2 linked regions of the Homo sapiens genome follow. The protein of the gene in region 2 purifies or fractionates together with the protein of the main gene of each other region. This does not show direct contact. Each region holds a gene or a part of one and is shown on either strand. Other genes may lie near its edges.

Region 1 (3,500 bases), on a different chromosome or scaffold from region 2:
AGGGGGCTGCTGGGGCAGCTCTGGCTGAGTGTGGCCAGGTGGGAGTGCAAACATGTAGCTTGGGGCCACTGGATTGTTTTCAAAAGAAATCCCAATTTTCATGTAAAAAAAAAGTCTCGATTTTTAAATGTTGACACCTGATTTCAAAACCAAACAAAAACTTTTAACAACAACTAAACATGGCTGCAGGCCTAGATTCAGCCTGTAGGGGAATAATTGTCCTGTCTTTTGAAAATAGTCAAGTCCTCACAAAGAAGCCTTGCACACCATAAAGACTGGTTGTCTGAAATCCCCACGCCCTACCCATCTCCACACCCTGACCCCTAAGCCCCACAGCAAAGGAGGAGGCCCAGCCCACGGCAGCAAGGAGCAGCGGTGCTGGACTTCAGGAGCTATGACTCTTGGCTACTCCATGACCCTGTGCCCTAGAACTAGACAAGATTCCGTCTCCCCTGTGAACTGGGCGGTGTTCACTCCCTCTCTAAAGGCTCACTTGAAGACTTGATGACGCAAAGCTGTGGGCTCTATAGCTGTAACACCCACCCTCCTCACCCCAGGGGGTGGCAGCAGAGTGGACTCCAAGGCTGCACTGGTGCCTAGGCCCTGTCCTGCGCTCCTGGAGGGCAGGCATGAGAGGATATGGCCAGACTGGATGGAAGAAACAGACTTGCTCGATCCTGGAGAAAAATCCCCACAAGGTGGAGCTTTGGGCTGGCCCAGAACTCCTCACTCTGTGTCCTGGGGTCAGTAGCCCCACAAGATGCCTAATACCAGGCACACCCAGATGATGGAAGCTGAGTACACCCCTCCCGTCTGGAGCCTCCCGGAACCCTGTGGTGGAAAGTCCTGTTCAGCTTTGTGCGCCCCATCATTTTCCACTAGTTTGCATGGCATACACTGGAAAACCCAACCCCCTTTCTCAACCAAGATCTTGGGGCTGGAATCCCAGAGAACTTATGTTGTTTCTTCTTTTCTCTTTCTTGGGGGTTGGCAGGAAGCAAGAGTTTAAAGCAATAATAAAGCCGAGGGGGAGACAGGCAGACAGGAAGTGCAGGAAGGAGCGTCCCAGGAACTCCAAGTCTGGAGTGGTCAGAGGCACGCCCGCTGCAGGAGGTGCAGCCTCACCACGCGCATCGGATGCTTTAGCAGGAACATGCACTCCACCCTAGAAGCCCACCGATCACACCGTGGGTCACAGTAATGCACCAGGGTGTTCACAGCAGCATTGTCTGTAATTGTGAAAATGTGCAAATAACATACATGTGTAGCAGTGAGTGCAACAGAAATGGGAACTCCTGCAGCTGTTGACAGGACTGATATATATTGAAAAGCAAAGCAAACAACATACAGTAAATGTAAGTTAAAAGGCTGGGGAAAAAAACAGCATGTGTGTGATCCCATTTCTAGAAAACAGGTCTCATAAACTCATCTCCACAGCTTTGAGAACAGGGACCCCACCTCTCACATTGACCTTGGCGTGTTGGCACTCACTTAATACTGGCTGACTAATGAATGAGGGTCTATGTGCATCATCCCAAGAAACACACTGAGACAGCAGGCCTCTCTGGGTGTGGAGAAGCTTTTGGGTGATTATTACTTGCTTCTTTATTTGCTTTCATCTTGTGTAAATCTTTTAAAACAAGTATGGGTTACTTTTGATTACTTTGTATTAATTTTTCCTTATAAAAAGTGACTCACGCTTACAGTACATATTTTTTAAAGTTGTAATATGGGGCCGGGCGTGGTGGCTCATGCCTGTAATCCCAACACTTTGGGAGGCCGAGGTGGGTGGGTCACCTGAGGTCAGGAGTTCAAGACCAGCCTAGCCAACATGGCGAAACCCTGTCTCTACTAAAACATATAAAAATTAGCCGAGCGTGGTGGTGCACATCTGTAATCCCAGCTACTCAAGAGGCCGAGGCAGGAGAATCACTTGAACCCGGGAGGCGGAGGTTGCAGTGAGCCAAGATTGCACCAATGCACTCCAGCCTGGGCCATAAAGTGAGACTCCATCTCAAACAAATAAATAAAAACTTAAAAATAAAGTTGTAGTATAGCAGTTCCTTAAGACATTAAACACAGAATTGCCGTATGATCCAGCAATTTCACTTCTGGGTAAAGTGAAGAGAACTGAAGGCAGGATTCCAAAGGATATCGGAACACCTAGGTTCACAGTCGCATTACTCATAATAGCCAGAAGCTGGGAACACCCAAATATTTGTCCAGCGATGGATGAATGGGTAAACAAACTGGTGGTCTGTACATACAACACTGGGAAATTCTGACATGCTGCAACATGGATGAACCTTGAGGACATCAGACTAAGTGAAACAAGTTGGTCACAAAAGGACAAATACTGTATGATTCCACTTACAAGGGCAGAAACCTAGAGTAGTCAAATTCATAGAGTGTTGAATGGGTGCAGTTTTCAGTTTGGGAAGGAGAAAAGAGTTCTGAGATGGACAGTGGTGACGGCTGCACCGCAATGTGAATGTGCTTACTGCCACTGTGCTGTGCACTTTAAAATAGTGAAGATGGAGCCTGGCGCAGTGGCTCACACCTGTAATCCCAGCACTTTGGGAGGCCAGGGCAGGCAGATTACTTGAGGTCAGGAGTTCGAGACCAGCCTGGCCAATATGGTGAAACCCCGTCTCTACTAAAAATACAAAAAAAATTTAGCTGAGTGTGGTGGTGGGCACCTGTAGTCCCAGCTACTTGGGAGGCTGAGGCAGGAGAATCGCTTGAACCTGGGAGGCAGAGGTTGCAGTCAGCTGAGATCAAGCCACTGCACTCCAGCCTGAGTGACAGTGCAAGACCCTGTCTCAAAAAAAAAAAAAAAAAAACACTTCACCTGCAGATAGTAAGTTACTGAAGATAGTAACTTGTATTATTAATATTTCGCCACAATTAAATGATTTCTATCATATATGTGAATAAACTTTAACATTTAAAAAAATGATATAGAAAGATATAAATTGAAGAAACCGACGTCTCCACCAGCCCCAGACTCACTCTGTCTGTTAAGAAAATGGTCCTAACTTCTGGAACTAGCTCTTGCCACTCAACATTGGGGCTTGGAGCTCTTTCAGGTCACAACACGAAGAGATGCAGCTCGCTCCTCAATGCTGCTAGTATTCCACAGCTGAAAGTGCCCTGCAGGGTCAAAAATTTCGTCTGGGAATTTTTTTTTTTTTTTTGAGACAGGGTCTCGCTTTGTCGTCCAGGTTGGAGTGCAGTGGTGTGATCATGTTTCACTGCAGCCTCAACCTCCTGGGCTCAAGCCATCCTCCTGCCTCAGCCTCCCAAAGTGCTGGGATTACAGGCATAAGCCACCACACCTGGACAATTTTTTTTTTCTGGTTGCTGTGAAACCATCCTCCAAAGAGCCTGCCCAGTGTAGACTCCCACCAAAGGTGTTTGAGACACAGGTTCCTTTTCTTATCAGAAAACAACAATGCAGCTATTTTCATTGGGTGCCTGGAGTAGGGAGCAAGGACAAA
Region 2 (3,500 bases):
CTTGTGGCAGACTATTGGATTTATCTATACTGTGTGTTGAGAACACAGACCAAGGGTTTTAGAAATTCAGATTTTTCATTAACCAATTTTAAGATACTGAGAGGCACATTCTCAGGTGTGTAAGTAACTGTCAAGCGTAAGAACTAGCATCATGAATTCTTCCAAAATTTATCCACAGTTGTGTGAAATGGGCACGTATGGAAATACTGTTACTAGAAACACTTGTATACTCTGCACACAGCATAGACTGAATGGCCTGACTTTAGCAATGCTTGAAAACTTTTCATGGTTTAGAAACTATTAAAATGCTACTGAATTCTTAGAGAGCAGCAGGCCCACGAATGAAATGATGGCCAACACTTATTGTAACACAACACTATATTTTAACAAAGATTTAAACTTCTGGTAAATAACTGCAGTGCAATGAAGAGCTTGCCACTTTCACAAATTAGCTGCAGCCTTTTCCTGCACTAGAGAGTTTGGAAGGATCTGAAAATGACATAAATTTTGTTTAAAATCCAAATGGAAACTCCGTGTTTCTGTAATCCCGAGTTCGGTAAAAGTGTCTTTTTAATTACTTTTTTTTTTCACATTCTAAGGGCCCAATTCTGTAGTCCTTAATCAAGTAAAACTTCCAAAGTTTCTACCATCTATACTTCCAATACAAGTTTTACTCAAAAATGGACTGCTAAATTAAGTCCTATAGACAGAGGTACCATAATTAAGAAAATATTTTAATAAGGCTCAAAATACTAATTTCACTTTGTGTGAAGCACACAAATTTCCAGGATGCTGAGATCAAAACCCAATTGATGTTGAATCCTGGGTTGGGAAATAACTCTGGGATCTCATTTCCCAGTTTAATCATAGAATTAGGAATTTACTAAGGACCAGAATGAAAACACTAATTTCAGTTTGCTTGTTGTAATAATCAGAATTTGAACACTGTCCTTAAGAAGTGAAAAGCTATTTGGTGTATTACATCTCATTATCCTTCCACTTCTGTAGTCCCGGTTAACCAGCTGCTATGTTAAAATACCACTATGTTTAGGGACAGACATTGCAGTAAATACCAACACAACATTCTGACAATGTCAAATTTTTGCCCCTATATGAACAACAAGACTAGGTTCTGCCTCTGACTCACTGACAGATGTATCAGAAAGCAGAACCTATCTTACTGTGTTTATATGTGTAGATGAGCAGAGCAAGAATGTAAAGTGTATATTTACTGTTAACCCAGAACAAATGTCCACTGAATTTGTTAATTTAGGTGTGGTTGAAATATAACCACTGTCATGTGCCTCATTCTGGTCACCTGCAAATGCCACCTGAGATGAACATGAACGTTGCCATATGCACAAAAGAAAGAGAGAAAGGAAGGAAGAAAGGAAAAAAGGAAGGAAAGAAGGGAGGGAGAGCAAAAATAAACATTTTATTCATCAAACAATCAAAATAAGTTAGTCTCCACCTATTATAAACAGTAAATATAGAACCCTAAATCTCACTAATGTAGGCATGATTGTAAAGTACAAGGTTGCAAAGCTATATGTAAAAACACTTTTTCAGACAGCAATATTTACATTAGTTAAGACCAACAGAAAAATTAAAGAAGAAAATTTTCCTACATATGTAGCTTGTACCGTAGGAAAAGACTGTGCTGTTCTTTCTCACACACTGCTAATCCTTTCGCTAACCACACTGGAGGGATTTACTGGTAACTCTAAATTCTCAACTTGCATCTCTATACCGGGCTCATTGTCACTGGCTTTCTCGATCACCGGTTCATTGGTATGCCGATAAATGTTAACATTAAGCTCCCTCCCAGACAAAGCAGTGGCGGCAACTCTTGGAATCTGCCTGACAGGAGGCTTTTTCTCTACCTTATAATTGCAACGCAAATAGTTGGAGAATGCCCTTCGGTAAATTTTGTTGAACAGAGTATACACCAGAGGATTGATTCCTGAACAAACATAGCCAATCCAAACAAACACATTCAGAAGCTTTTCCATGAGCTTTTGGTTACAGGACTTCTCACAAAGAACAGACAGAATATTGGTAATGAAAAATGGGCACCACATGATCAGAAACACAAAGAAAACAATCCCAAGGACTTTCGAAGCTTTTCTTTCATTGTTGATAGCCTGCATGGTGCCCCTAGGACGTCTCTCCTTCTTCTTTCTTCGGCGTGCGTTCTGGTCTTGGTTAGGGTTTGCAGAGTTCTCTTCCTCGGCCGTATTCCTCTTGCAGCACTTCAGGAAATCCAGACTTAGTCCAGGCGGTTCCTCGGTGTGGCCGTGCAGTAACATCAAAGCTTGTCGGCGCAGAACGTAGATGGTCAGGCAATACGTAATCACCATAATCGTCAGCGGTATGAAGAAAGCTACGAAGGACCCAATAAGAACGAAATTTGGGTCGTTGAGCACGCACGTCGTGTTGTTCACGAACACCTTTTCTTCGTCCCTCAGTCCAATCACAGGGATAGGAACTGATACACCTAAAGGAAGAAAAAGGAAGGGGGTTGTTATAGCATCTTGAAGGACTGAACAGATGTATTCAACGGCATACATTAATTTGCATTTTACGGAAGGAAATTCAGACCTGATATTTGTTGAAAGCTATTCACGGCATAATCGATAGTCACATGAAACACTAGCAGTATGGCATCAGAAAATGATGGCGTTTTTCATGTTAGGAATGCCTTCTCCCTAAATTCTGTAGAAGGCATGGAATTACCCTTATTGATATTAACTATATTAGAGACACGGTTGTGTCAAAGGGTGGATTGTGTCAGATTTGTTGGATTTCCAGTTCCAAGAATCGTCCTGGCTCAGAGAAGGCACTCGATAAATATTTGTTGAATCAATGAATAAATTCACATCTGTACTTGATGACATTAATAAAGCCAATCATTCTTTCTTTAGCATATCATTTTCCAAATTCAATAAAAATGAGACAAATACCACCTGTAATAGTAATAATAGCCTATTAGGGATGGCTGGGCTGAGTCTAACTACTATGCAGAAATAGTCAATAAGCAGAGACTGAAAAGATTCTCTTTTTAGCAAGGGTTTTTGTTTGTTTGTTTTATTTTGAGTCTCTGGGCATGAGCAATGTTTCAAAGTCAAGAGAGGGTAAAATGTAGAGTTGGGAGATATGCAGTCCTCCAGTTTCTGTGTGGAATTTTGAGCATTTTTGTTTTAAGAATACTGAGAGGTAGTACTCTAGGGAAGCACTTCCTTCAATAAATAGGCCCATAGTTAGGAAATATCAATGAGGAGGTGGGAGCAGAAGGTGATCTTGTGCCTGAGCATAAGTAAGATATCTGGAAGCTTTCAGAAATAACCACAGTAGGTCTTCAAGAGGTCCTGCATCAATACATAGAGATAAATAGATAACAGATAGAGATTGCTGTCCTGTCTTGTGTCCACAGGAAGTCGAAGCCTGGGAAGTTCAGATTGTATTTGTGGGGTTCCATTAGAGATTATTAGGAATCCTGG

What was found. The genes of interacting proteins can lie anywhere in the genome.
Region 1: the proteins of HTR2C (region 2) and CAND2 purify together in Homo sapiens (co-immunoprecipitation; 3 studies listed by BioGRID and IntAct, with this or other methods). This does not show direct contact.

Annotation. Positions count from the first base shown.
Region 1 is NC_000003.12:12,827,680-12,831,179, reverse strand, and holds part of CAND2 (cullin-associated NEDD8-dissociated protein 2), read right to left. Parts: intron 3,154-3,500; coding exon of another isoform or gene 3,091-3,153; exon of another isoform or gene 1,581-3,090; intron 1-1,580.
Region 2 is NC_000023.11:114,905,586-114,909,085, reverse strand, and holds part of HTR2C (5-hydroxytryptamine receptor 2C isoform a precursor), read right to left. Parts: intron 2,498-3,500; coding exon 1,671-2,497; 3' UTR 1-1,670. UniProt on the Homo sapiens protein: G-protein coupled receptor for 5-hydroxytryptamine (serotonin).